2 separate regions of the Homo sapiens genome follow, and region 1 is linked to region 2. Evidence: fine-mapped QTL for protein levels in blood plasma. A gene starts in region 2. The other region holds a variant in brackets. All regions are shown on one strand. Distances are between the middles of the regions.

Region 1 (15,649 bases), 67 kb after region 2:
CGAGGCAATACAGACTTGAGTGGACAGGGTCCTACTTTCAGGATCATAGATGTGTACACAGATAACTCTACGGCAAGGCCCCGGAAAAGGTAAAGTGAGGTGGGCAATCAGCCTAGGGGGTTGGGGGAACATTCAGGAAACAGAAGGCATTTGAGCTTGGCTTGGAGGAGCAGTTGGAATAGTGATTAGAGTAACTTGGGGAAATGGTCAAAGGGCACCCCAAAGAAAGAAAAGAAGAGCAGAAAGGGCCTGAGAAAAAGTAATTAACGTAGAACCATTGGAGTTTATGGAGGCTGTGTGGTGTGTGTGTGTAGTGTGTATGTGCATGTTTTTAGAATGGACATGGGCATGGAGATGGGGTGGAATGAGATGAGAGAAAAAACTGGGAAAGTAGTTTGAAGTAGCTCGCAGCAGGCTGTACATGCTAGAATAAGAACCCCAGGCTTTATTATGTAGAAAGGAGAAAGTCATCAAAAAATTTTGAAAGGGGGTAACATAATAGGCTTCCCTTTCTGTCATATATATATATATATATATATACATATTTTTTTTAATATAAAGCAGCAGACATTCTCTAAGAGGGCCAAACACCAACACAAGTCACAATAGAGAGGGCTTATTATCGGCATTTTCAGTTTTCCATTTACAGACATTCTATAGTTAGATGATGACAAATTTCCATGGGAAAAGCTCAAAGTGTGGAATGAGCATAGTTCTGTTCCCATCTGAATAGGTTGTCACTAGCCAAGGTCACTGGGGAGGAGGCTCTAGAGACTTGTCCAGATACAGCTTCTCTCTCTGTGGGTTAGACTTAGCCTGACTCCCCAGGAGCAGGGCAGCCTCACCTGAATGGTAGCTGAGCAGGGCACTGAGCAGGGAGGGACAAGAGCTTCCTCTGCCCAAGCCCAGGGCACCTGGAAAGCCAGCCTCCTCTCCTGGAGGAAAGGAGGAGATTGAGAGGGTGACCCGGGGTGGTGGACAACTGCATCCCTCATGTTCTCTGCCACTTCCACCTACACTGTTGCAGTGTCTGAGAAACTTATCAGAACAAGTTCTCCTGTCCATTAAATAGCATTTAATCCTCCGAGGAGCCTTAAGAATTGGGAATATGCTACATTTTACTCTGGAAAATATGTTTAGTTTTTTGGTACTCACTGAAAACCTGGTGCATGGGAGACTGAAAAAAATAAAATGATGTTTTATGCACATGAAAGCAGCAAGTTATGTCAGTTACTTCATCTGTTACCAAGGATTTGGGAATTTTAGAGGCTCACTGGGTAAAAGCAGACTTTATTTTCATTTCCTAGACTGAAACAATATAGGGTTGTGAGAAGTTTAACTGTAATTTTTTTGTCATTGTTTAAAGCTGCAACTTTGAACATTGTGCTGAAACTTAGATCTGAGAGATCAGCAGATCTATATAGTAGCATCTGATTTGTCAGGGATCATCAGGGGATGAGGCATTTCAGAGAAATAAAATATTCCAGTATTTAAATCATATCTCTTGAGGGTCTTAATGTTTGTGTTAATCATTTTTTGATGTAAGAGTTTCCCAAATCTCCAGCTAACCCACTGCCTTGTGAAACAAGAATGCAGTATCAGATCCCATTTGCCCTGCTGATTTAAGAGCATTTGTATGAAAGCCAGTTATCAGATCATTCTGATGCACTGCCCTCTGAGGCTACCAAAACTTGTTGGGTGTTTACCCCTGTCTTCAGCGGACCCATTTGTCATCATCCTATAATTCTGTTAGCCATAAGTACCCCCAGTATATTTTCCTGGGCAAGAATGTGGTATTTCTGTCTGGTGTTGGCATTAGAGGATCTCCATCCGAGTGACAGTTGGGTTTGTTTAGGCTTGCTTTGATTAGCCTTGCTTGCTTGTAATGTGAAGTCCAAAGATCAGAATTCAAGTTCCATTTCTTTCTCTTCTCCTTGTATGATCTTGGACAAGTTATCAGCCCCTCTATACCTGGGTTTGCCCGCTAACAAAAATGGTCATAATAATACCCAGCCCAGGGCTGAGAATGAAGCTGTATCATAAATACAATGTGTTATACAAATGGTAGTTCATTTCACTACAAAATACCTGCTCATGCCCAACTTCACCTTAGGCATATAATTGATCAGGAGTGAGTTGTTGAGAGCACTTCTGAGTTTTAAATAACATGGAGAGGGGCTGTTTATTGAAGGGATAACTGTGGCAGATGCAGCAGGAAGGCTCTAAGGGGAAAGCGTCTCCCCTAAATTTCCTATTATGCAACTTAGTGTCCAGAACACTGTGGTGGTTGAGAATCAGGGTTCAGCAGAATATGCAAATTGCCTTTCCTTTCATCAGGACACAAAGAAAGAAATGAGCCCCCAAAATATCTCTCAGAAGTGACATGGGTTTATCATTTCCATTATCCTTGACACTTTTCAGGGGTTAAATGTCTCTGGCTAGGCGCATGTTATTATTTGAGTATTACTAGCCCTTTAAGAGCCTCGACACTTCTGGAAAGCAGCCCGTGGAGCTGCTTCAGCACCGAGTGGGTCTGAGCTACAAGAGGGTGACCGCTAATCCTAATTCTAACCCCAACCTGAATTTATGAGGTCCTGCTGGTACGCAGAGGGAGGACTGGAGGGACCAGTCAGGTTGGCCAGCTGGCCCAGTGGTATAGGGAGCCGTTGGATTGGGGTTTGTCACATAAACTGGGACCCTGCCCAAAGCCGAGACGTCGTAAGATTCCCCTGTTTTGCACAACCCTGTGGTAGTAGCCACATCCTTATTGTGTAAACTCAGGTTTAACCACAGAACAACCAGCTTATGCCTTGTTAGATGAGGAGGAGCTTAACCCACTGAAGAGTACTTTCTTTTAATAAGGAGAGACAACTTCAAAAAAAATTGTTTTAGGGGCCCCCAAAATTTCAGATGAGGACACTATGAAGATTTTGAGTCTTGCAAGCTGTGTGATTAAAATGATCAAGTGATTAAAATGCTGTTTTAATGCTATTATAAAATGGTATTTTAGTTTGGACACATCCTTAGAAAGACTCCTTCCGCAGAAAAACTGACGCAGCAATTTGTAGAGGGAACTCACAGGTGTTCCATGAACTGAATCACTACATGGGGGATTTTTAAAAGCTGGATTGGGGGAGCAGTGGATGGTAGAATGAATCCTTTATCTTGAAGATATAGCAAAAGTAAATACAAATTATACAGCTTGTAAGATTAATGCTTTTGAATCATAAAAAATAAACACAAAATTCTTGTGGCTTAGTTGCATAAAGATAAGCAATTCAAAGTCCATATCTTTAATGATAGCCTTTTTTCTGTCGTAAGTAAAGACTGCATCAAGGAATTAATGCAAACACATTTCTGCCTACCATCCTTATATTTCTCCTTTCTTGCTAAAATTACCTACTTCACAGGATGTGAGAATTAAATGAGATATGTGTCACTTTGTTTAGCACCAAAGAAACACTAAATAAGTATTGTCAAGTTGAAATCTGAATAGTGCTTTTCTTCTTCTCCCTGTCTTCCTTCTCCTTTTCCCATCCTCACCTGCTTTCTTGGTGCTTACTGAGAACTGACTGTGTCCCCTGGACTGGGGCAGAGGTGGCCCTGCTCTCCAGGAGCTTTGCTTATTCACTTACTCAACCAGTATTTATTGAACTCCAACTTGTACCAGTCTGTCTTCCAGCCCTGAAGACTCAGTGTTGAGGATGAAAAAGTCCCTGTTTACATCCAAGGGTTAATACACCAATACATTAATCAATCCATAGTATAACCTTGAGTACTATTAAGCGCTACAAAGAAAGACAAAGAAGGCTAAAGGGATGGAGAATGGTGGAAGTGAGTTGGAGGCTATTTTACATGGATACATCAAGAAAGCCTCTCTGGAGAAAGTGGCATTTGGGCAGAGTCCTGAATGAGGTGAGGAGGTGGCCCATGAGAGGATCCAGGCAGAGGATGAGGCAGGGGCACAGGAAACAGCATGTGCAAAGGCCCTGAGGTGAGCACAAGCTTGGCATGGTCTCAGGAAAACAAAAAGATCAGAAGGGTATGGTCTCAGGAAAACAAAAATATAGTGAGCTGGGAGAAGGTTGTCACACAGGAGCCTGGAGGCATGGGGTGAGGAGAAGATCACATAGGGCCTCATGGGGCATGCTATGAAGTTTGTTCAGATTGTATTCCAGGATTGATGGGAAGCTATTGGAGAGTTTTGAGTCCTTATATTGTTTATGTGCTTTAAAAGGATCACTTTAGCCACTGGAGAATACAGAAGAGCAAGAGCAGAGGCCCCAACCAGGGGGCTAGTATAGGGACGGAGAGGCAGTATAACACAGTGGGGAAGCCTCCAGGGCCAGACTGCCAGGGTTTGAAGCATGTCTGCCATTGATGAGCAGCATGAGCATGGACAAGTTAAATAACTCACCTGCACTTCACTTCTCTCATCTATAAAATGGAGATGTAATAGGGTTACCACATTGTACAACTCCAGAATCTCCCCCTGGAGTCCGACGAGTGCAGCGTGCACAGTGCCACTCAGAGCTGTGCAATGCAGCGGTCTCCATCATGAGTCCTACCTTGTTGTGTTACCATGAAGATTAAGGCATAACACACATGTAAAGTGTGTAGAACAATGCCTGGTACCCAAGAATATCTCAAAAATATCTGTTATTATTCGTAGCTGAGGTGAGAGATGATGGTAAGTGGATTAAAGTCGTTACAGTGGGGGTGTTGAAAAGTGATAAAATTTGAAATGAAATTTGAAGAAAGAGCTTGTGCTGGTTCCCAGGGCACAACCACTAATGATGATGGAATTCAGAAGCACATCCTTGCCAGGACTTCTAGGTGGGTTTCTTAGTATGATTCTATTTTGGAGCTGAATTTCTCAGAATCTTCCCCACCAGGATGTTTTCCACCTAAAACAATGAGTGGATGTAGTACATATTTTATAGAGTGATTATGAGATTTAAACAGGATCTTGCATGTAAATACCCTAACTTAGTGCCTAGTACATTGTAAGTTTCAATGACCGTTAGCTATCATCGTCATCATCATCTGAGCAGCTCAATGTTTCTGCTTAATGCAGGCACATACCTACAACTCCACAGAAGAGAGATAGCAGCAGTTTTCCCCTCTTGTGAGGAGAGCTAAAGAGAACAGAAGCATTTGGGAATTAAGGTCCTGAGGCCATAGTGTCCCTAAAGGAGGCCTGTTGTTGTGCCCTCAGACACCCTCCATGGCCCTCAAAAGGCCTGGATAAGAACCAGCCCAACCAGGAAGAGAAGCACCGGAACCTAAATAAAGACATAGGATTCAAAAGGCATGATTCACCTTTATTTCATTGGGTTTACCACTTACAGAGCCCAAGTCAACCATGTAAAGCTATGAAATTTATGTTCTATTCCTTTTCCTGACCCGCTTGGCCCTAATGAACCTCAAACACAAATACTGGAGGTGGCAAGGGGACCTCGGCAGGCCCAAGAGCTGCAGATACCCAACTCCTCCCAGGCCCTCCTCAACACCACCCCGCTCTGCTCTGCCCCACTGATGCCAGGTCCTGGTATCATTGCTGTCTGACTACTCACACACCATGAGGTAGCGTCCCTGCTTTTTTTTTTTTTTTTTTCCTGAGACAGAGTCTCGCTCTGTCACCCAGGCTGGAGTGCAGTGGCGCGATCTCGGCTCACTGCAAGCTCCGCCTCCTGGGTTCATGCTATTCTCCTGCCTCAGCCTCCCGAGTAGCTGGGACTACAGGTGCCCACCACCACACTCGGCTAATTTTTTTTGTATTTTTAGCAGAGACAGGGTTTCTCATGTTAGCCAGGATGGTCTTGATCTCCTGACCTCGTGATCCACCCGCCTCGGCCTCCCAAAGTGCTGGGATTACAGGCGTGAGCCACCGAGCCCGGCCGGCAACCCTGTTTTATTTGTTCTTGGATGTATGAACCATATAATTCCTTCTTCAAAAGTCATAAAGGCGAGACTCCAGCCAACAATTCCACATAAAAAGAGAGCGCCATTTTCTCGCTCTCAGGCTTGGTAATGATTCCTGCTGTGAGGCAGTCATTACGGAAATGACTCAGTCTTTCTCTCCTGTGTTAATAAGATTTTACTGTCTTTGGTCCTGACTCAAACTGGCTGAGAGCAATGTGGGGATCACAGAAGCTGTACCAGAGTGTGTCACTATGTAACTTTTCTTAACTTACCAAAATACCATGTGGATAGGAGCCATTCCAGCCCATCGCCTTGCTTCCGAGTTGGCTGTAGTCTTAGCCGGGTTCACACAATGGGCATCTGCTAATCTCTTTCCTTACCTGCCAGGAAGTTGAGGCCAAAGTTCTGTTTTCTCTCTAAAGGCTAATCAAGCTGTAAAGACGGTTAGTGGGCTGAGCTCAAAATAAGGCACCTGAGCTCTCTTTGCATCTCTAACATCCACAACACTAAGCTTCTTCCTGGGGTCCCAGTGTGATAACTGACCCAGGCCCAGATGGCAAACGAAAGCTATTAGGGTGACTGTGGAAACTTCTGTGTCTTCTTCTTGGTTGAAATTATCCTTCTGGAGCACATCTGGAGATCCTGGCCATTTAGAAGCCATCCAGGAGCCATTCATTTATTTGACAGACATTATTGATCACCTACAATCCAATGCCAAACAGCACTAGGCATTGAGTACAGAAAGACAAAAGGCACAGCTTCTAATGTCAGGGACCTCAAGGTGTCATGTAGGGGACTGATGAGAAAGTGAACAATGTGAGTCATATGGTTAGTGCTATAAAATATTCTGGGTGCTACAGAGGCGTTCAAGGAGTACTGACCACACTGGTGGTCAAGAAAGATTTCCTAAAGGAAGACACACTTAGATGACCTGAAGGGTGCACCGGCGCCCTCTAATCAGAGAAAGGCGAGGAAGGAAGCAGAGGGACATTTCTAAAGAGAGAGGGAACAGCACATGCAACAAAGCTGGCTAGCTGTGACCACTAACATCCATTTCCTCCTTCCTGGTCAAATAGCTAGGTGATACCTCCCAGCCTCCCTTTCAGTTGAGGATGCTACGAGACTGCATTCTGGCCAATGGGAGGTGTGCAGAGACACTGGGTGTTCTGGCCTACAAGATCCTCTCGTGTGTTCTCTGTGTGCTTCCCTACCTCAGCTAATTGGGAACAGATAGAAATCAGATCACAAAGGGCTTGTGTGCTGCCTGAAGGAACTCCATGTTACGGTGCTGGTAAGAAGCAAATGAGCACAACAAAGTGACCATACTTAGTGTTTAGAAAAATGGAGGTGGCAGGATATTAGGGACAGGTTAAACTTTACCTGAGCTTAAGAAATCCCCTACCTTTTTGTTTTCCAAAACACCCCCATCCTTTTGTGTTCCATGGCAAAATCTCAAAGGACCATCCTGCCCTCCAATATTTCAAGTAAGACCTGCCTCCATCCTTTCTAGAGATTCCTGTGAGATTCCTTTGTTCACCTGCCTGTGTAAAGCCCCGGGGCCCCTTCCTTTTCTTTGAGACATTCTCCTTTCATGAACATTCTCCCTATTGCAATACCCTGAATAAAACCATCTCCTTGATGGTCTGGTGCATTTGGTCTTTCACATGAGCACTGGATGAGGAGTCAAATCTTCTAAGTGAAATTCTGCTTCTACTTGAGAGTAGACTTCCACCTTGCTTTATTTTGCTTTGTTTTGTTTCGAGACAAGGTCTTGCTCTATCAGCCAGGCTGGAGTGCAGTTTTGTGATCATGACTCATTGAAGCCTCAGGCTCAGGTGATCCTCCCACCTCAGCCTCCTGAGTAGCTGGAACTACAGGCACGTACCACCATGCCTGGCTAATACTTTTTTTTTTTTTAATTTTCATAGAGACAGGGTCTCGCTATGTTGCCCAGGATGATCTTGAACTCTTGGGCCCAAGTAATTCACCCGTCTTGTCCTCCCAAAGTGCTAGGATTACAGGACGTTGACTCCCAACATCCTTGGCCTCTGCTTTATTTTTCTTCAACACATCTTATTGCATATTATTTATCATCAGTCCTCCATTAGAATATAAACTCCTTGAGGAATGGGCTTGCCTTCTTGACCACTGCATGTCCAGGGCCTAGCACAACTCCTGGCATGTAGCAGGTGCTCAATTATTAGGACAAATCATGGCTTGGTGACCTGATCCCAGACCGCCTGAGCTTTCTACCACCCTCCCTCGGCACCTCTGACCTTTCTTGCTCTCCATTGTTTCTCTCCCTCTTTCTCTGTGTTCCTGTCTGTCTCTTTTGCTCTAATCTCTCTCTGCCTGCCTCTCCCCCTTCCTCTTTGTGGATCTCTTTCTTAATCCCTCCCTTCTTGTTTTCCCCCGTCTCCTCCTTGGGCCTTGGGCCTGCAGTTCCCTCTTAGCCCTTCAGCTCTTACTTTTCAGCCAGGTTGTTTATCGGGAGGATATGGACCCAGGTGACAGAGCACCAGCTGTGGAATAAGGAATGACCCAACCCCATCTGTGTTTGTATCTGTTGAGTCATACAACTT[T/A]AGCACCTTCGGACATTCGTCTGCTCACAGGCTCCTTGAAAGTTAAAGATTTACCCAGAACTGGCCAAGTCCATGTTTTGGTAACAATCAACAAAGTGATCTATAAGCCTTGCTCCAAGCAGATTGCTGAGTGCTGAGAAGGAAAAAAGAACCCGGGTGAGAGGCCCCTGCCTTTCAGGAGCTTCCAGTCTAGTTAGCCAAGGAGGTGAGGCCCACACACAGTCTTACAGGAAACAGAGAACAAAGACAGGTAGAATTTGGGGTGTAGGCTGTGTAAACCAATGGGTCTGGAAAGGACCGGCCATTGCTAACTTTGGAACTTCGAGACACGTGGTCTGTGTGTGAATGATGAAGCAGGGATCAGGGCTTCGACTGCAGACAGGAAAGCAAGAAGTGAGGGTCAGTGAGTTGCAGTGTTCTGCTGGTAACTGCAAGGCTCTTTCGGCCACTGTGGCCCAAGCTTGCCTGAGGGGCCTCCTCTCTTATCAAGGCCCCACACTGTGTCCTTCTCATCCCATCATCGAACTGAGTTAAGGTGCAGGACTCGGTGAATGGAGATTTCCTCAGAACACAGAGTTAGAGCTGATGAGCTGGGCAGCCAGGTGTGGCTGCACAGAGGCGCATAAGCAGTTGTGTCCTGGAGCTGCAGGCCTGATCTAAGTTTCTTCATGTGGAGACTGCATCTCAGTGTATCTGGAGTGAACTCTCCCTCTGGTTTCTTAATAGCTATCCGCTGAATTGATTGAGATAGTAGGAAATTGTCTGAAAATCTTAATGAATAAACCCTGCAGTATGGCTGATGCCTTTTCCTCTGCAGGCTCAGAAAGTTGCCCACAGGAAAGTACAGCTCTGAGACACAGTGGGAGGTGGGTGGCCAGGTTGAGCTGAGAGCAGAAAACAGAAGGTGGTGACTTCGTGCTGGTTGTGGAAACTCCAGGCTGATGGCGATCCATCCAGTGTGAAACTTGTTTATACTGACACAAAGCTGAAGAGCACTTGGCATTCCTTTAGTTACTGCTTTTATAAACAGAGGGGCCTGAAACTTCCTGGGAAATGCTGGGAGCATCGTACGGCCTCCTAAGGTGGCTCTTTGTGGTTCTATAACTCTGGGGAGGCAGGGGAGGGAACGCATACTTTCCTGAGCCCTGGCTCATTTATAAATGTGGCGGGTGAGGTGGCAGAAATGAGTAAACTGAGTAAATGTTCCTCCCAGAGGATGATTCTTGGAGCAAAAAGGGATTTGAGGGTGGAAGGAAGCGATTAGCAGAAAGGGGTGTGGGGGTGCGCACGGGGCATCTCCCAAGTTCCTTCAGGAGGCGAGCTCTCATCTTACAGTCTTGTTGACTCCTGTCCTTGCTCCCATCTAACCTTGCCCAAAATACACACCAAAAACCAAATCCCCCCAGGAAGGCCGGTTCGTTTAGTCACCCCTTCCTTATCGCTGACGGTCTCCTTGCTCACATTTCACTCCCATTGCTGACTCAGGTTTGTCTTAAAAACTGCAGTTTTTGCACCTTGGGAAGATAATTTTATAACCCCACACCTGCTCTCTAGGTCTGGTCTGTGTGCTGTTAGAGTTGGTGTGTCTATGTCAGAGATACCAACAACATTTGAAGCCATAGTTCATGGCCTGGGTTAATGGATATTTAGGGCAAAGGCCCCAGTTCCACATTCGGATCTCCCTCCCCCACCAATTAGTATATTTAGGAAATATTTAAATGGCAACTCAGCAATGATCAACTCGATTTACTTCTGTTTCTTTATTTTAAAAAATAGGATTATCCAGGTTCCACATTTCAGTATTAAGATGCCTTAAGTTATTGAAATTTCAATTGTAATAAAGTAATAAAATGAGTCCTGGAGGCACGGGAGTGAAAAGGGGCTAATATCTCTAATATTTGTTAACCATTCACCTGCTCTGCCAGGCATCATGGGTGCTTTGCACATGACTTCTTAATCCACCTAGAAATGAGGTGTCAAGAAAGTGTGATTTACTCTCATTTCAGTTGAAGGAAGTACGGCTAAGTGGCATGTGCAAGTTCACACAGCCAATAGAAAATGCAATCGGGACCAGAAGCCACATTTGCAGGACTTCAAAGCCAAGGTTCTTCCTACCACAAAACCAGGATGCCCTCCTCTGCCACTGGAGTCTGCTGGACCAACCAGCAGCACAGGCAATGGCTATTGCTTTTGGTTATAGCATCAACGCAATCTATCTAAGTTGTGTTTTTGTTTTTTTGTTTTTTTTTTTTTGAGAGGGAGTCTCACTCTGTTGCCCAGGCTGGAGTGCAGTGGTGCGATCTTGGCTCACTGCAATCTCCACCTCCCAGGTTCAAGCGATTTTCCTGCCTCAGCCTCTGCAACAGCTGGGACTACAAGCGCGTGCCACCACGTCGGGCTAAATTTTTTTTTTTTTTTTTGTATTTTTAGTAGAGACAAAGTTTCACCATGTTGGCCAGGCTGGTCTCAAATTCCTGACCTCGTGATCTGCCCACCTCAGCCTCCCAAAGTGCTGGGATTACAGGTGTGAGCCACCATGCCTGGCCCAATCTATCTAAGTTTTTCTGTGGAAAAGTAGAATTATCTGCTGAATAATAAAACACCTTTTAGATAAAATTGCATTATGGTTTTCAAACTTCTTGAATCCATATTATTTATTTCTTACCACAATCCTATAGATATCATTATTAGGGATTATGGTGAGCACCTGCTCACCATATTTTTACCAGCCCAGCATCCACTTCTTTTTCTTATGGCACCAACAGATCACTGCCCTTAGAGGATCACTCTTCCTCCATCCTCAGTCCATGTGATTTGCCTAGGGCTGACCCCAGTGACTGGCTCTAGGAGTCTAGACCCAAACCCGACCAATGAGGGCACTGATCTCTGATTGGTTTAGGGGTGAGCATGGCCATGTTGACCAACAAAGGAAATGAGCATCAGCTCCCGACCTTTTGCAGAAACAATAAGACATTGGAGCTTTCCTCCTGGTGGTGGTGCAAAGCTGGCAGGAAGTGCTGGTCGCTGTCTTTGCCTAACTTGGGGAGAGCTGGTCTGAGAATGGAGGTAAATCCAGAGGAGAGCTGAGCTAAAGAGAGGGAGGAGACAGGTCCCCGATGACATTGTCTGGCACCCAAATACAGCAGTGCTCAAAGTCCAGTCTCTCCTGGACTTCTTAGCTCATTAAACTAAGAAAATTTGCCTTTGTTTAAGCTGGTTAGAGTTGAATTTCTGTCACTTTGTTTTATATTATTCAAATTATTGCTCTCTACTGGCAAGGGAAATTTGGTTGAGATCACTGTTTTTCTTCACAAATATATAAATTTGGAAAGGACACTTTGTTTCTTATAAACGGTTACAGCCTGCAAGGTGGCCATCTGCAGGCTGGGAAGTGTAGCCTCTGGCAAAGACCGAAGACAGGCACTTTGAAGGAGGAAGGTTTGGACAGGAATTTAAGCTGAATGGGTTGGCCAAGTACACATATTCAACAGGTTATAAGAGGAGCCATGAATATTCATGAAGGCGGTCCTGACGCATGCATATTGAACAAGCATGCATGTAACATACAACCCGTGTTCACCTAGGGGTGAAGACTTAACATTTAAATGTGTTACAATTAGGCCTTTAATGTCAAAGGTCTTTTTAGGATGCAAAGGCACTCAAATGTGCATCCTCTGTAAACTGGCCAGAGTCAGTCAATGGTTGGTGGTCTTCTTATCAGGAGAAAGTTACTGAAATCAGTCTCTTGTCCAATCAAAGCTGTAGTGATGGCTTGTGGAACAGGGGGTCAGTTAGTGCATGGCAGTGGCTGCAAATTGTTTTACTATTGCTTATCTCGAGGCCAGTGCTTGTTTAACTGCTAGAGAAAAAGGTAAACCTTGTGGCAGAGAACACAGTTTATTCTTTAGGTGTAGAGGTGAGTGACTCAACCCTTGTCTGGCATGGCTCTAGGTCCTGTTTATAATTTAGTATTTTATTGCCACAAAGAGTCTGTTCTGTCAGTCTTATGAGCTCAATTTTAACATTAATGCTGCTCAGTTCTTTCTAACCCATAAAAGGGAGGGGGCATAATGAGGCGTATCTGATCTCCTGTCAAGGCTCAGTTTTTAACATTTTCTGAGGCCTCCTTGGACAAGAGGGAGTCCATTCCGTCAGTTGGGGAACTTAGGATTTTATTTTTAGTTTATAGTTTCATCTTTCCCAACCTTCTTGGCCATTTATGAGTTGTGGATTCTGGGGATACAAGAAGCAGCCAGTCCCAGAGATGTTTCTTATTTTGTCATAGGGTGGTGGAGTGGGTTGCTGATAACACAAGGCATTATGAGCTAAAGTTGAAATCCACTTTCACTTTCCCTGCCTTCTCAATTTTTCTCTCATTTGAAAGGGTGTCAGAGAGCCAGAGAAACTGAAAGAATTAGGAAGAAGAGGGGAGAGGTGGTGTTTGGGGACACTGTTGGAAGGGAGACAGGACCTGCATGTGCAATGCACATTAGGCAATATTAAATGTGACTCTAGGCATTTGGTGAGAGGTCAGAAATGAAAATGCAGTTTTAGGCAACCTAGATAAAAGTGAGAGGTGAAAGGTCAAGTTTCAGGAGTCTATGTGTTAGAGTCATGTGAACCAGAGCAACTCCATCTTAAATAAGAGCTGGGTAAAATGAGGCTGAAAACTACTGGGCTGCATTCTCAGATGGTTAAGGCATTCTAAGTCACAGGATGAGATAGGAGGTCAGCGCAAAATAGAAGTCATAAAGACCTTGCTGTTAAAACAGGTCACAGTAAACGAGCCGGCCAAAACCCACCGAAACCAAAATGGCGACGAGAGTGACCTCTGGTCGTCCTCACTGCTGCACTCCCACCAGCGCCATGACAGTTTGCAAATGCCATGGCAACATCAGGAAGGTACCCTATATGGTCTAAAAAGGGGAGGCATAAATAATCCACCCCTTGTTTAGCATATCATCAAAAAATAACCATAAAAATGGGCAACCAGCAGCCCTTGGGGCTGCTCTGTCTATGGAGTAGCCATTCTTTTATTCCTTTGCTTTTGTAATAAACTTGCTTTCATTTTGCACTGCGGACTCACCCTGAATTCTTTCTTGCGTGAGATCCAAGAACCCTCTCTTGGGATCTGGATCGGGACCCCTTTCCTGTAACATATGCAAGGAAAGAAATGCAGAGGAATGGAACTGAGCCATGGAACAGACATTTGGGGTTGGGCAGGAGGAGTTAGCAGAGAGATCTGCATAGCTCTTATCCTACTTAGCACTAGTGCTGTTCAAGGTAGAACTCACAGCATAAGAATTCACTCTGAAACATAGAATAGGGTGTCTTTAGGTATATACGTATACATCAATATTCAGAAAATGCAGACTCTTAAGATTATAAAATCTGCTGTTCTTCCATAATTTATTCATTTCTTTTGCAGTTGAAGAAAATGTGTTTAGGGCAAGTTACCGTTGGCATGTTTGACCATAATAAATAGTTTGAGTTTTTAAAATAATTTCAGAATGTCTAAGAATTAAATATTTTTTCTGTGTACTTTAGTATATGTGAAATTTAGGGTCAAAACATCACAAAACGCCCTCCAAATGACAAGACCAAAATATTATTTTAGATCAGAGCCTTGTCAACCTTTAGTGTACACTACAGTCTTTTGATTATTTTGAGAAGTCTGTAGTCTTGAAAGCATATCGTATGAGAAGATAGATACTGATATAGAACTGCTAATGGAAACTTGTATGTAAGAATTTTGTTTTTTCTGGCTTCATAGAGCAAACCCTTGTTTACATAGAATAAGAGAGAAAAAAGAGGCAAGAGGATACATTACATTTCTAAGTTAAGTGCAAGCATCCTGGATATTGTAACAGACTGGGAGTTGTATTAGAGTCTATTTGATTCTCAAAGCATTTCGCGGCCTTTCATTAGGCAGCACCCTGCCTTCCACGTCACAGGCTGTCACAGACACTTGTTGAGGATGATGCTGGTGACGTCATCAGTCCTTTTTCAGCAAAGTCTCCTGAAAATAAAGCTCAGATTGGCTGTGCACATCTCTGGACCTAGTCCAGAGTCAAGCACCACTGAGGGCAGGGACCTGCCCAGGGGTGCTGCTGACGTTTGAGATGGAGTGGTTCTTCACAGCACAGAAGTGTTCCATCACTGTGGGACATTTAATATCCCTGCCCTCTTCACTAGATGTTTGCAACACTCCCCAATCATTGCGATAACCGTGACACCATGGTTAACCCTACATTACCAAATACCCTCTAAGAGATTCCGCTTTCTCTTCTTAGTCAGTAACCAGTAGAAGATTGCCCCTTTGGTTCTGAAGATGTTAGCTATGGGAACCTCAAAGGCTTAGGAAACTGCCAACACCTGAGATCTAACTTGATCTAACCTTAACCCACCATCTATTTCTGCCATGACCATGCTACTTTCATCCTTTATAATTGCCAGGCAGAAATAACAAATACTTTGGGATATTGTTGTTCATGACCACTATCCACCCCAGACTTTCCTATCAAATCACATGCAAGTGCTTTAAACCTGCTGCATTAGAATTAAGGCTTTGAGTTATTCACTGAGAAGGAAAAGTTCCAGAAGTTCAGAAACTTAGGAAGCAGTGTGGAGCCCAAGAGACCCAGAGAGCAGCAGTTCTTCTTTAGAGCACATGCAGCTTCTGAGATTCTTCTTCTGGCTGTGCATGTTGAGGAAAAGATGATCCCTTGGCTTCTGCAATCGCCTTTGCACTTGCTCCTTCCTCTGAAGAGCTCACCAGGAAGTCTCTCTGGGCGCCTTCTCCGCACTCCAGACTTCCCACACTCAGCAGCACCTCCACCCTGACCCTGCCTCCTTCCAACTAAGTCGTTTCACTTCCTGTTGTCTGGGGCAGTCAACACATGTAAACTTTCAGAGCTGAGTTTTATTTTTTTTGAGGGAAAATATTTTAAGGAATTTTTAGGGGGATTTCAGTAGAAGACCCAGGGATTCCCAGCACTGTTCTGCTATGCTAAGAATATTAAGTTGTAGTACCCTAAATATTTGCAAAGTCACATTGTCCTTTCCCTTGTTTCTGAAAAGAACAAAACCGTGCAGCCAATAGCTGATCATTCCATTTTCAAGTTCACCTAGGTCAGAAAACC
Region 2 (15,649 bases):
ATCACTGCTAAAAATGCCTTTTCCAAGACTGAGAAGATCCAATTTAGGCATATTGAACCCTATTGAGCCCCTTTAGAAGATATCTGCAGTAAAAGAAAAAGGAAGGGAGTATTATGCATTGAACCAAAAACAAATTTTGTGCCTGGGATCCTCAATAGAGGGAGAAATGTGAGCATGGCGGGACCTTTAGAGATGACCTGATCCAGCCGGTTGGCTGAGGAACCTGGGTCTCCGAGGGGGCCCTGCCCAGAGTCACAGGGTAGTGCAGAGTCACAGGTAGGACCAGGCCTGTTGTCCACCCCTCCCCACAGTGCGCGCTCCCCCTTCTACTCCATCACCTTCTCAACAACTCTGTTCTGCTATTTTTGAATTGGGGAAGAAATGGGTTGTAAAACCCAAGTATTCACAATTTAAAACAGGTCATAAAAACAAATTAAAAAATGCTCACCTTTCCTGAACTTGAAGATTTCCAATAATAAAGTGTATAAATTAAGTCCTTGCCAAAAACATCCCGGAGGCTTAGGAAAGTGTTGTTCCTTCTGACTAAAGTCCGTTCATCTTCTACGGTCACATTCACTTTTGTTCCCACCTGTTCAAAACTCTGAATTGTTGGCTGTCCGAGGTTTGCTGAAACAAAGGAAATGAGCTTGGTTGGAACCAAAGAATTCTGTACAAAGTCAAATCCTGTTTTGTTATCACAATTGACAACTTAATTATCTCTCATATAAAACATGTGCATAGAACCAGCTCCCTGAAAGAAGCAGGCGTGGCGGCCTGGAGCTGAATCCTAAGACATTCTGTGGTAGTGCTGGCCCAAGGGGAAGACAATGGAGCCTCAGATGTCATTTTAAGTTTTCTAGTAGTCACATTAGAAAAAGTAAAAAGGAACAGGTGAAATTAATTTTAATAATATATTTTATTTAACCAAAGACAGTTGACCCCTGAACAACATGGGTTTGAACTCTGTGGATCCACTTGTATGCAAATTTTTTTAAATAAAAGTTACACCAAGTGTGCCGCCTCCTACTTCCTCCATCTTTTCTCCTGCCGTGGCCCCTGCTCTTCCTCCTCCTCCTCCTCCTCAGCCTACTCAACATGAAGATGACGAGGATGAACACCTTTATGATGATCCACTTCCACTTTATCAATAGTAAATATATTTTCTCTTCCTTATAATTCTTTCTCTTCCTTCCTTCTTTCTTTTCTTTTCTTTTCTTTTTTTTCTTTCTTTCCCTTTCTTTTTTAGACAGAGTCTCGCTCTGTCACCCAGGCCGGAGTGCAGTGGCGCAATCTCAGTTCACTGCAACCTCCTCCACCTGGGTTGAAGTGATTCTCCTGCCTCAGCCTCCCAAGTAGCTGGGATTACAGGCACCCACAACCACGCCTGGCTAATTTTTGTATTTTTAGTAGAGATGGGGTTTCACCATGTTGGCCAGGCTGGTCTTGAACTCCTGACCTCAAGTGATCCACCCGCCTTAGCATCCCAAAGTTCTGAGATTACAGGCACGAGCCACCATGCCCAGCCTCTTTTCCTTATAATTTTCTTAATAACATTTTCTTTCCTCTAGCTTACTTTATTGTAAGAATACAGTATATAATACACGCAACATGAAAAATGTGTGTTAATTGACTGTTTATCTTATTGGTAAGGCTGCAGTCAACAGTCAACCGATAGGTAGGCTATTAGTAGTTAAGTTTTTGGGGAGTCAAGTTATACTCGGATTTTCAACTGCACAGGGAGTCGGTGCCTCTCAGCCATGCATTGCTTGAGTCAACTGCATATATCTGGAATATAATCATTTTAATGTGTAATCAATATAAAAAAGTTTTGAGATATTCTACACTTCTTAAATTCCAGTGTGTACTTTATACTTAGAGCATTAGCCATATTTCAAGTGGTCAACAGCCACATGTGGCTAGTGGCTACTATACTGAACAGGGTGGTAGCATAAACTACGATATTTTAGGTTCAAAAATATGTAGGGCTGTGAGAAAGCCCAGGAAATGTCCTTGGTACCTCGAGAAGCCGGATTTAACCACGGGGTCTCTGCAATGGCTCAATTATCTCATGTGCTTTGGTTAAATGACAGGAAAACAAACATCAATTCACAGGCCAAATATGTGTGTGCACATGCAAAACAAACACATAAAATATCTTCTATCTTGCACCAACAAAGGATTTGAAGTAGCTTACAAAAAAACTCAAGAACTATTAATATAAAAGAGAATCATGAGGATGCCATTAATTAGGGGGGAAATGAATGTCAACCATGCCACAGTCACCAGAGGGGCTGCTGACGCTGCTACATTCTTGCCTGGTGCCACAAAAGACACAAGCAGAAGCACCTGGGGGTCTGGAGGGTCTTGCAAATGGGGGCTCTGGGAAGGCAGCCACATTCACCTGGGGTCAGGCCCCCTATTTCAACCCTCAAAGTAGATACCAGAGGAGGATGGTTGGTTGGTTGTCCGTCCACCCCTTCTTTTCACCATTCCTACCTTGAGAAACTGTTCTCTCTCGCTGGGCCTAACACTCACACAACACCTTCATTCTAACCAGCTGGCCTTACAAGAGAAGCTAATTTCACTCTACTCAATGTGCTACATGCATTTATCTAAATTGCCTAGCTCAGAGCCACAGTTGCGGCAAAAGAATAAATCTCCTACTTGACAGGAATTCTCTTCATTCTTTTACTGGCTCCTAGGGCCAGCTTACAGGGGCAAAGGCTGAGGAGGAAAGTATTCCACCTTTCCAAAACCAGAACGAGGGTGACAGGCAGATGGCTGGGCAGGTGCTGGCACATCACGGAACTCAAATCATGGCCAACTGATTAGAAAAGGTCAGCATAATTAGGCTAATTATGGGCTCAGAGGGAAACCATGGACTTTCCTCATTGATTTATGACCGTTTGGGAAAAATCCTCAACTGGGATTTTTAGTGTGATAACGGGACAGAAAAATCAGGATACATGATATATATATAGGGAAAAGCTAAAACCCCGGCCTTGGTGGATTTCCTATCCCTACCCGCTTCCCTGGCCCGCCCTCTCCCAACACACATTCAGCCGGTTACTGAGGACAGTAACAGGGTCTGGGGACAGACTGGGGGAGAAAGTTACTTGATGACACTGTCATCAGCTCCAAAGTTCACATTCTGTGAACCTCCTACCACATCTGGAATGTGTGAAGAGGGCTGTGATACATACCAGTTTCTGAGAAAAAAAGAATAAATATTTTTAATTTTGTAGCCCCTAAAGGCACAAGATCACGAGAATGTTCAGACGTTTCTAACAAGAATGAACGGTATTACAGCCCAAGCCACTTACTCTCCAGGTAAGGTGTGAACTCTGGGGAGTTCTCATACAGAGGCTCCCCAGCAGAACCGGTGCTCTCCACATTCCCTGCCGGGTAGGAGAAGACCCGTGCCAAGTACGTCTGCTTCACATCCTTCACAATCTCGTCGGTGAGGTCACACTCTGTGTCTGTTGTGTAAAAGCATTTGCTTTTCCAATCTCCTGACTTAGTGCTAAAGAAAGAAAAGAAGGAAGAAACATAAATGGAATGTTACAATTTGCACCCAACAAGATAGACTGCTTCCTGGCTGTGGTGTTCTGTGCTAACATCAGGAGCCCTACAATCAATCCTAATGATGCAGTCACTGTGCTGAGCACTTTGCTTTTTTTTAAACATTGTTTTGTAGAGATGGGGTCCTGCTATGTTGCCCAGGCTGATCCTTCTGCTTCGGCCTCCCAAAGTGCTGAATGTACAGGTGTGAGCCATCATACCTAGCAACACCGAGCACTTGGGATGCATGTTTGAGTCCTCATAGCAACCCAGGGGATGGCTCTGTAATTTGCCTTGTTTTTACAAATAAGGCTACTGAGACAAAGTGAGATTGGGTGACTAGCTCAAAATCACACAGCTGGACTTTGAACCAGACAGCTATTTGACTCTTGGATCTGTACTCAACCATTTTGTTAAATATCTTTCTTTTAGAATGTAGACGCTCTCTGTCAGGGTAACAGGAGAGAAAGAGCAGTTTTCCATCAAGATGAGGCAACTGAGACAAAGTGAGGTTGTTTACTATAGTCTACTTATTATAGTTGTTTGTTATATAATGTTCTATATTCTATGTAGAATAGAGTCTATATAGTGAGTCTACATAATAACATGTTATACATATATTCTCTCATGACCACTATTAATAATATTATTAATCATTCATTGACTCCACTATATGCCAGGTATTCTGCTGGACCCTTTACTCATGTTACTTCATTTGATATAATCCTTCCAAGAAGGTGTTGGATCTTTCTTATCCATGAGGACACTGAAGCTCACAGGCACTAAGCAACTTGCAGAAGGTCACATATCTAACGAGTGGCAGAGCTGGGTCTGTTTGCCCCATTATACTACATGCCTCCCTTCCTTTGCAAGATGTGAATCCATCCCAACAAAGATTACAGAATAAGAGTACAGGTAGTATCTGTCTAATAAAGTCTGAGACTAAAAAGCTAAAGACAGATCTTTCTTTTGTGAGACGTCACTGAAGGGGAAATGATTTAAAGGACTTCTACTGACAATGAAATTCTTCTAAATGACCAAAATAATAAATAGGTGAAGCGTCACTGCAACTTGATTCACACACTTCTGTCCCATGGAAAGTGACAGTTATGCTGCTCTTCCCTTTGGCATTACTGACTGCCAGAGCCAGACCCATCGTTCAAGGCCAGGTCCCAACTCCACCTGCTCCAGGAATCTCCAGATCTCCCTGCTGAGCATTTACATCTCCCTCCCCTGTCCCCCAGCATGAGTTTCTCCACGATGCTGTTAATATGAACACAGTCTGCCTGGTACGAGGGCTGCATGCCCTTGTGTGCCCCCATTAAGCAGCAGGGCTATAGGGTCTCGCTGACTATTAGATGGTTTGCATTTACAGGTTGAATTAATACATAATCTCAGGGAAAACGAGGCACCACATGGATTCCATTGTCTAAATTCACACATAAAAGCCACAAATATATTTTCTTTCAAAATCTGAACTAAGTAACCAGGCCAAAAGGATTTGGGTAAACACATTCTTTATCCTAAAGTGCACAAACTAAGATTGATACTGAAATATTTTGGTTTCTATTTATTTAATTTTATGTGATAAAAGTAGAGAGGGTATTTTGTTCCCGAATGACCAAAATGTGTTTTATTTTATCATTTCCATTTCAAAAAGTGAATGAGACTATGCTGTTTCCTTTTTATCAGTACAGCAAATAGTTGTTCAGATAACAGGAGAAAGTCTCCTAGGGCTTTCTATGTAACATAGAGATACAGTATTTGGTTCCTCCCAGCTCACAGCAGGGACCACATACTCTATAGCAAAATTTAGCACAAGGATTTATACAGTACCCTGGTAAGTAGTAAAACTGTATAAACAGGTAATGAAGGGACAATTCTGTAGAAAATCCCTCTGAATGCCATTAATAGCATTAACACTTTAAAAGCCTCCAAGGTTCCTCCAGGCATTGCAAAACCCTCTGATTTGGAATTTTGAGTTAACTAAAAAATTCAGTCACTAATTTGGTTGCAGGTTGTTTTCCAGAAGCTTTGTAAATTCAGCTTTAGAATTCAGAACATTTCCATGGAATGAATATCACCGGTGACGGTTTGTGCTAAGGCTTAAGCCAATAACATTTCCCAACCACCACTGAAAACTGTTAGCAAAGGTGAAAAATGCAGTTGGAGTTCCAAGTAGGGGCTTCTGCACAGCAGTAGTGTCCTGCGGCTGGAGCCAGGCTGCAGTAGTGAGAGCAGTCGGGAGGGAAGAGGGGCAGCTGCTTAAGATGCTAACTGTAGGGAGGGAAAACAGGCAGAGAGGAAGGCCAACTGAGGAGATGCAGTGGGCAAGACTTTCCTTCTTCCTCCCGCTTTGGAGCCTCCCATCAGACTGTGGCAGAGCCACCTGAGGGATGGTGGTGTGTGGATACTGGGTAGACTTTGGTTCCAGACCTGACATGGGCACTCACCATCAGTGTAGTCATGAATAAATCCCTCACTTCTCAGAGCAACAGTTTCCTCAACTGTAAAATGACTGCTCTGGTCCTTTTTAACCAGGAATCTCATTTATTCCTGGGGTGGGCAGGAGAAGAGTGCACACCTCAGGCCGAGGCTGATGGAAAAGCTCCCAGGCCCTCCAGTACAGCAGCAAGAGATTGTTCAGTCCATAGGACCACCCTGAGTCGGCTGGCATCCCCCAAGCTGTAGCCCTGCGCTCTGCTGTTTGCAGATCAGGAGCTGTGCTCATTTAAATAACAGCAGCCTTATAAAGTTCAAGAACTTACAGTTAACAAAGGCTTATGTTTAAAAAGCAGATGAATCATAAATATATTCCCATGTGTCCCTCAAATATTAGATTGAATATATTTAGGAGGTAAGCATTCCTCCCAAAATCTAATTTTTACCATATGGAAGTAAAGTGTTTACTAAGGTAAACTTCAGGCCTGTATCAGAGAAATTACTTACTAATTCTCAATTGGTGAAATCTGAATTGACAAGTTTGACCAGAACTGTAATCATTATTTCATGTTATGAAATTCCTTCATCTTTCTCTCCCCCCACCCCCATACATATCCACACATGCATGCACGTATGCATGCAAGTTCTCCTTGCTGGTTTGGCAACTACTGTCATGAAGTTCATTTTGAAAAACAAGAACATTCACTTAAAAGATGCATCGTTATCTAGAAGTTGCATTCCTAATGCTGTAAAAGGCCTGGCACAAGCTAAAACAAAACAGAACAGCAAAATACCTTTTGTTTTAGCTAGTGCTACTTTTGTACTTTTATGTAATTAGCATTAAAATAATTTCCACAGCAGCTATTCTCTATTTCATAAGATCTCTACCAAGCCTCCTAGAACATTTCAAAAACCAAAAACTTGCCAAGAATATGGTGAAAACCATCAAGGAAGTCATAACCTTTAGATTGAACATGCTGAATTATCGCCTCCTGGGGACAGCTGCCAGTCAGAGTTGAGGCACCAAGAAGCAGAGCCACACCAGACCCAGAGGGTGCAGACAGCAGAGTATTTCTGCTCTGCCAGGCTCAGTGAGTCACGCATTTGGCCTCCTCCACTAAGATCATGTATTCTACCAGATTTCGATTCATGGAGTCCAAAGATGAATGAATCAAACACTGCTTAAGGGCAATGTATACATTGGGATTCCTCCCCACCTCTTCCCTAAGGTGTTAGACATTGTTCACAGTCTAGACAGCAACAGAAAAAGACATCAATGTTTAGATGAGATTAATTAATCTATCATGACCCAAAGCACACTTCAGTGCCTACTCAAGATGGTTCATCTCTCCACAGTTTATACTCCACTTAGGAACTCTCCCATCATTTCCAAAAACAATTAAAACAATTAAAATGTTCTATCAGTTTAAGGTCTGGAAATGTTGCAGGCCTAATAGAGTATGACACCGGCCAGCGAATTGCCAAGAATCCCTTCTTCTTCGTCATCTGTTAAATAATTTCATCCAGTAATCAGCTTTAAAGACATTCTTGTTCAGCATAGGACAGTAGAAACATCAAAGACCTTAATTTTCTTTTTCTGTACCCAGCTTACCTTATTTGAACAGTGTAGACTTGATTGACGGGTTTGGGTTCCCACTCCAAAATTGTCTTGAAATTAGTTGATTTCCAAGTTAAATTATATGCTGCCACAGTATTTGTAGTGCCTTTAAACAACAGAGAAACAGCTATTATTACATGCACTTCAGAGCACTCGAATGTATTGATGTATAAAACACCTTCCCACCTGACATCACCATAAACCTCACTTTTTATTTTTCAACCACAAAAGCTTCATTAGTGAATTATCAAGAGAAAAAGAATCTTCAAATTTTTTCTAGACCTAGAATTTCTTCATGACAAGATTCACCTTGTAATCCCAGGACACCGGCAAGGATCTTGACATTTTCGTTTGAAATTATTCATGGGCAAAGCCTTGTTATAACTTGACCGGGAAGAGCCCAGAGCCATCAGTGTGCCAGTCCAGGACTCAGCTCAGGAAGAGTCAGGTTCAGCCCGCCAGGAAGGGTTTTCAGTAAGTTATGGAAAAAGATAAATCCCACACGTGTGACAAGAGTTAGGACTGCATACAAATGAAAAAAGCCAAACTTCACTTTTTCCACTTTTATCTGAAATGTCGCTACACTGAAACTTCCACAGAGACCCACGGGGACGTGTGGCCTGTCACACCGTCGGCTGTATTGGATCAGGATTATTTCTTATGAAGGTCTGCTTTGCCAGTACGCAGCAGGTCCCAGTCTCTACGCCGTCCCGAACACCTCGTAGAAATACGGGGCATGCACAACGTTGTACCTGCTCCAATCTAAGCAGCAATCCAGCCCTTTTGGATTGCCTCTACCCAAACCTAGAACAAAGATGGCCAGGAAAAGACCAGGGACGCTCTTTATTAAGGGAAGATGCACATATAATGAAAGATAATATCCAAACCTCTGCACGCCAACACGTGCAGACGCAGGCACAAGTCCTATCATATTGAAGGTCGCAACTCACTGGGAAGCCCTTTCCCCAGAGTTAAAGCGGGAGCTAAAAGTCCGCTTATGCAACAACAGTCCAATTACTCGGACACCCCGAGCAAAACTCTCCAGCGGAAGGGGCAGCGGGGTCTGGGGCGCCAACTCCCTCCCTGCAACTCCCGCCGGCGCCCGACGGACTCGGTTCATTCAAGCCGGGCTGGGTGAGCGCAGCCGAGTCCCGTAGGCGCGGGGGACAACATGGGCGCCCCGGGGAACCAGGGCGAGCCCGCTGCCAGCCAGGACTGTCGCCTCCCTCCTGCGTGTGGCGCGCCCCGGGCTTCCAGGGGCTGGTGCCACTCACCTGAAGCGCCGGCCACCTGGGCGAAGACCCAGCCGAGCAGGAGCGTCCGAGCGACGGCGGTCTCGGGGCGCGGGACCCGGGGCCAGGCAGGGGTCTCCATGTCTACCAGTTGGCGGCGAGATCGAGCGGGTTCCGTGGCGCCCGTGGGGCTGGGGAGGTTGGGCTGAAGGCGCCCTGGGCCGGCCAGAGGGAGTGCGAGGGGGTGCGGGGAGCTCGCAGTCTTGGGGAGCCGGTGCCCCGCGCGCTATAAAGGGCCGGCGGCGCGCTCTCCCGCGCCTCTGCCCGCCCCCGGCGCCCGCCCCCGCCGCTCCTCCCGACTCCCCGCCCCCGGCCCGGGTCACTTGCCGTCGCGGTGGGCGGCCCCCGGCGAGTCCACACCCCTGCCCCGCCTCCTCCCGGTAGGAAACTCCGGGACCCTGCAAGGGATGACTCACCCCAGTGATTCAACCGCGCCACCGAGCGCGGAGCTGCCCTGGAGGACGCAGGCGGGTCTAGTTGCCCGGGTCCCCCAAGGCCCCCGGATTCACCCAGGCCCGCGACTCCGACGTGCAGCTTAGGTGGGTTGCAGGTCTATGGCAGGAAAGGGAGGGCGCCTTGGAAGAATTCTTCCCTTCCATTTGGTGATAAAGTGGGAGAGGCGGCATTTACAACATTTAATAGAAAGCACGGGCTCTGGGCTCCCCTCGGGCAGCGGAGGGCATTTCCCGGATGCTTTGCCCACCTGGGGCAGAAGCTCGGGACCTGCAGCGAAGTAAACGTGTGGCTGTGAGCAGGGCCCTCTCCCAGCCACGGTGGCTTCTTCTACCCCACGAAGGTCAAGAATACCTGGCCTGCCCACCTCGCGGGGCCCTTAGCGGGTCGCACAGGAGAAAGGCGGTGGGAATGCCGGTGTCAGCCACGGTGTGACCGGCTCGGCTCACAGGTCTGAGGGTCAGTTGGCTCAGGCATCGCCCGGTACGACCAGAGATAGTGACTGAGGAAGAGCAGCCTCACATCTGGCAGTTTGCCTCTGGGAGAATTCCAGCGTGACATCTGCAGCTCTGTGGTTCCAGAAAGGATGGTTCCCACATTGAAGAAGACATCTGTGGGACTGAGTTCCACCGAAATGCAGAGGAACCAAAAATGAAAATGAAAAATGTAACCAGAGTTGTGTGCCACTAGTTTTAAGCTTTGGTTTTTCTAAATTATTTTCTGGCTTCTCCTTCTGGGCTTTGCTGTAAACTTGCCAAGCATGAGAACAACTCTTCATCTATTGAGTGGCATTTTAAGCCATCCTGTCAAAGTATCTCCTGTCATTTTTATTATTATTACTCTATATTGCCTGCAAGACACGACTGGAGAATTCTTAGTGTAAGAATTGTTTGTTTCCTCTCTCCTTCTTTCCCACGTTTTCCCAGGGAAGTCAGTCTTGCATTTTAATGCATACTATATACATATCTCGTTTAGCTTACTGAACCACTTGTTTTAACAGAATAAAACTGTGCAAAATTTTAATTTTCCTCCTTTGCCTGAACTGAAATAGCACATCCAGGTTTAGCCCTTGTAGACTTTCCTTCCTCGAAGCAGAAAGTTGCCCTTGATGATTTCCTCTTTGAGCTCTCTGCCAGCTCTGAAACCCACAAAATTTATGTTTGCAAAACTAAGCCATGCAATCCTCTTTTTATGCAGGCTCTAGCCTGAGTCATTTTCCCTAAGAGATCTTCAGCTCCACCTGGGATGTGATTCTTTGCTCTCTGGGATTGAAGGTAGCTGAAGAGAAATAGTTACACTTCAGGTTTGTTACAAGACCCAAGAAATTGTTGCAATTCCACTTGGAGTCACTGACTTTTCTGAAATCATATAGGGCTTTAAACAATGTCAAGATCAGCCATTTGATAAGAAAAATGTTTACCATTGGATTGTGATACACAATGTGCCTTAAATATTGATAAATTAGATGAATATTTATTTTGTATATCCATTAAAATAGACAGGAAAGAGAAGATGTTGGGTGTTTGCACAGGCTTTTTAGTCAGTACGGAATGACATTCTTCAAGATTTAAAAATGCTAAAATCATTACTATTTTCAAGAAGAGGGAGGAAGAAAACGTGGTAAATAATATTTCATTGCGAAGTGTTTTTCCCTGACTGATCTAATTGTGGCCAGATCTACTTTTTGACGGTGCGAAGTGTACTTTTTAATGGTGCCAAACAGCAGTTGATCTATAATAACTGCTGCTTGGCACCATTAAAAAGTACATATCTAAAATTTCACTGTTGAAATTTGTTCACAAGAACAAATTGACTGTTAAAATTATTCCCTAACCTTAACACAATTTTTTTTACTCCTGTCAGTAAAGTCAAGCTTAGCAGTTAACAGTTCCCTCCTCCATGATCTATCTTGGAGGCTCTGAGAAGTTCAAAAAGTTACTAAACTATAACAATAATCTCTCTGGCTTGACCAGTCCCTTTCTCATTGGATTTTAGGATGTCAGAGGATGGGAGAACCTCACAGACATTCTTTTATGGATGAGAACCCTGTGGCCAGCTGATCTGAGTAAACTGGCTTGCCTAACCACACAGTGCAGATCTGGTCTTCTGACCCCGGGGGCTTTCCTTCCATCACCAGGCTTTCTCCTACTCCCAATGAAGGAAAGTAAGACTGGGTGGTAAATCCATCAAATGAATGATTAATTAATCCATCCATAAGCACTCAAAAATGTTCTGCATGTACACAAAGTGCAGAAAAGTGCAAAACTGCACAAAAACTGCACACAAAGTATAGAAAATACTTTGCAGTTTGGGGAACTCATTGTTCTTAGGCAGAAATATCCTGATGGTTAGTCCTTGAAATAGACAGACAAGGAGACACGTAGAAGAGTTTGAATTCCCTTTGCATAACCAGTGATGAAATGTGGTTGATGAGAAGTCTGAAAATAACTGCGGAGATGTTTCAGCCCTTCCACTGTACTTTTATAGTACTTGCTGCCAATTTTACCGACTCATTTTCATTGAGAACTTCACTTAATCTCACTTGTGTGTTTACCTGTTAATCTTTCCTGTTGGATTGGGTTTTTTGTCTGTTTTTTTCCTCTCTCAACCCTTTCCACAATTATCAGCACATAATAGGCACTTAATACCTTTTGAGTCAATGAATACTTTATAAAACTATGAGTGCAACCAAATATTTCACTGGTGTTCAAGAGATGAAATCTGTCACTGAAAACTCTTTCTAGGGGCCAGGCAGTGAGTGTTTCATGATGCTGAGATTGGTAAGAAAATACAAATCCATCATGACTGGAAAGGCACCACTCGACCGCAAGTTCTAGCAGTCTAACCAGTGATTAGCTATCTCTGCACCACCAGAAAATCTCACCAGGAGGAGAGATAGCTGAGAAGCAGAAACCAGATACAGAAGTTTGGAAACTAGCTAGCATTTTTTTAAAAGACTGGATTCTACGATGATTCAGAATATACTTCATCATGCGATGAGGTTGTTGATAGTTTTCCTTGCATACAGAGGCTGAATAACTTTTTAAAACAAATTCCTCAAAATGTTTATTTCCCAGGAAAGAGATAGGTTAAGATACATGATAGCAAGTAAAATTGAGAATAATTCAGAGAAACTTATTTTATGCATATGAAATGGTAAAAAGAGCAATGAAACCATTACCCAAAATTCAGGTAAAAGGCAAAGTATGAGAAAAGGCCAGAGGGAATTAGGAGTTAGTAGGAACACAGAGTTCTGGAGGAAAAGGAAAAAAGTGACTCAGCAGAACCTAAGAAACATCTGGCTGGGTATAGTTAGTCATGGAAAAATTGGCAGTCATGATTATGCATTTTGTGAAAATAGCAATATACTAGTCCAACAGTTCATTTAGACCAAAATTAAACAGTTGAAAGTCAGTATGATAAAATCTATTATCCTGGTCATTCAAAATACTTCTATCAACTGTCTAGAACAGCTTACAAGAAGCTTTGCTAAATGAGTTATCACATAGCACCAGTATTCTGAAAAATGTAACTTTAGAGAAAAACCTTCCAATTCAAGTCTTAGACTGGGATTGGTATTTTCAGCAGACATCTATTTTTATAAACGTAAAGCTTATCAAACTACCTTTCAACTTTCATTTTGATGAACAGTAAATATTATTTTATTATCTACATACAATGGTGACAAAATAGATAAATAATAAATATGAATTGTGGGTATTATTTTAGTAACAAAAAGTCATTTAAAATGAAAACCCTTAACCTATGTTCTTATTAATATAATATTTATGTGATTTAAAATTTTGTATATGGTATCATTTACTTAAGCATCTCTTAATTCCTCATTTCTGTAACTCTTTATACCTGACATATGTACTAAATTTGATGAACAGAAATTCATTCATTCAACAAATGCTTGAATGTCCACCAGATACTGGGTTCTTTGCTAGACTCTGGATGTACAGAGTAAAACAAAGAAGTCCCTTTCCTGTTAAACATATCATCATTCCTACTTATGTCCAGATTTTATGTTTGTTTGTTTGTTTTTTGAGACAGAGTTTCGCTCTTGTTGCCCCAGGCTGGAGTGCAATGGCACAATCTCGGCTCACTGCAACTCCACCTCCCAGGTTCAAAGCAATTCTCCTGCCTCAGCCTCCTGAGTAACTGGGATTACAGGCATGTGCCACCATGCCCAGCTAATTTTGTATTTTTAGTACATACAGGTTTATCTATGTTGGTCAGGCTGGTCTCAAACTCCCGACCTCAGGTGATCCGCCTGCCTCTGCCCCCCAAAGTGCCGGGATTACAGGTGTGAACCACCATGCCCGGCAGATTTTATGGTTTGAATGATTTTCTGTCAGCATTTGAATTGGATATAAAACAATCTTAACAGTGTTGTTTATTTACAAATTTCATTCTGTCCTCCCCCCAAAAAGATTTAGGTGTGTCATGATCAGTTCATCAAATAGGTATCTTTAACTCAGAAAATGACTTACAGGTTTAAAATATACATTCTCTATCAGTTTGAACGTATTGATGAACTCTCAAAGTTTTGAATATGGAAAAAATATATGAAGCTCAACAAGAAAGACAGCTTTATAAAAAGGCAAGTCTAGCAGAAAAGATAACCAAGTAGGAGGAGATTCCTCACGTAAGGAAAAAAACAAGTAAAATAATCAGCTTAAAAGCATGTGTGCAAGATATTTCATTGTTATTTTTATGTTTGTTTGTTGACATTTTATAGCCTAGTTAACAGATGCTCCAAATTTTGAGCCTGTAACCCTTCCAATCCCTTGCTGCCTTTGATGGTGATGCTCCATCCTATTATACCAACTCCACATTGAAGCAGAACTCTCAAGACAGAGGTAATTCCTTAGTAAGCAAAGTTATTTTTCACACTGGAAACATGTTTGTTTGACTGGTTGTAATTGTCATCCTAAACCATCATTACCCTTTATGTTACAACATTTTAGCATCTCACAGTTCTAAATCAACTACTTCTATTCTCACAGTTCTAAATCAAATACTTCTATTCCTTGCCATAAGGGGAATAACAGGTTGCTTTAGCGTCATTGTTTGTGCCCCCTCACACCCACCCAGCAAATCCGTATGTTGAAATCCTCACCTCCAATGTGATGGTGTTAGGAGGCGGAGCCATAAGTAGATGATCTGGTCGAGGATGGAGCCTTTGTGAATGGGGTTAGTGCCCTTATAAAAGAGCTTCATCTTCCTTTCTGCCATGTGAGGACATAGCAAGAAGACGGTTCGGGAAGCTGAACCAAACCTGCTCGAAACTTGATCTTGGACTTCCCAGCCTCCAGAACTGTGAGAAATAAATTTATGTTTGTTTAAGCCAGTTGGACTATGGTATTTTTTGTTATGGCAGCCTGAATGGACTAAGATACAGGACATATACTATGGAGACAGCTATTAAAATGACCAATTTAGAGCGATTGATCTTAGACCTGCACCTTATTTTAAGAATAGTGTTTACTTTTCATCTCCAATCACAATGGATTTGTTAACCAAGATCCTGCCTTATATGGGTTAATCAATACTTATTAAGGGATTACTATGCACAGGACAGTATACCAGGAACTGTGAGTCCCTTTGGTAAAATATCTCGTAACTAGTCAGGAAGACGAGACAAATACTTAAGCTTCCACAGGGGAAAGTGGTACGAATGATGTGGGATATAGTGTCACATCTCTTGCTAGTAGATTGAAAGCCCTGTGCTGGAAGAGACTGCTCTATCTTTACAGGTAGCTACAGTGCTAGCAACAGTGCCTGGCACACAGTAGGTCCTCCGTATTCAGAAAGCTTTGCTTAAAGATACAGAAGATGTTCAGGACCTCTACAGAGAGAGTTTGGTTCTCACTGGGGTGATGAGAGAAGGTTCCCTAGAGGAAAGTATTATTTAAGCTGTGGCTTAGTCCATTTAGTCTGCTCTAACAAAATACCTTAGACTGGGTAATTTATAAGTAACAGAAATAACAGTTCTGGCAGCTGGGAAGTCCAAGATGAAGGCACTGGAAGATTCGGTGTCTGGCAAGGGCTCACTCTTTGATTCGTAGCCGGAAACTTGTTGTTGTATCTCCATGGCAGAAGGGACAAGGCAGCTCCATTTAACTTCCTTTATAAGGGCACAAATCCCATGCATGAGAGCAGGGCCTCATGCATCACTGCCTAAAAGGCCCCACCTCTTAATACGATCACATTGGGCATTAGGTTCCAATGTATGAATTTTAGGAGGAAACCAACATCAGACCATAACAAGCTGGAC

Alleles and levels. Alleles are on the strand shown, and positions count from the first base shown. The strength of an association depends on the size of the effect and on how common the allele is.
In carriers of allele T in region 1, the plasma level of the protein whose gene starts at base 9,118 in region 2 tends to be lower than with A alone (moderate association).

Evidence for each region. PIP is the posterior inclusion probability: the model's chance that the variant is causal. The UK Biobank Pharma Proteomics Project read protein levels with antibody pairs (Olink). The fine-mapping took linkage between variants from a reference panel, not from the people measured, so its PIPs are less certain.
Region 1: its variant is fine-mapped to the plasma level of the F3 protein (UK Biobank, PIP above 0.99).

The regions. Positions count from the first base shown.
Region 1 is chr1:94,599,870-94,615,518 of GRCh38, forward strand. All of the region lies in intron 1 of LOC105378861 (a long non-coding RNA gene), which reads left to right. Among named protein-coding and RNA genes, the nearest start is that of MIR12133, 64 kb to the left of the region's middle. RefSeq lists enhancers at 5,526-6,725, 8,641-9,141, 9,142-9,642. The variant T/A (reference allele first, on the strand shown) is at 8,508.
Region 2 is chr1:94,532,642-94,548,290 of GRCh38, forward strand. It overlaps F3 (coagulation factor III, tissue factor), which reads right to left and starts at 9,118. Exons shown (of 6, transcript NM_001993.5): 1 at 8,896-9,118; 2 at 7,616-7,727; 3 at 3,324-3,523; 4 at 449-627. The coding sequence starts at 8,995. MIR12133 (microRNA 12133) reads left to right here and starts at 11,061; the gene lies at 11,061-11,138. It overlaps LOC124904223 (a long non-coding RNA gene), which reads left to right and starts at 9,333. Exons shown (of 2, transcript XR_007066234.1): 1 at 9,333-14,231. RefSeq lists a silencer at 9,038-9,317.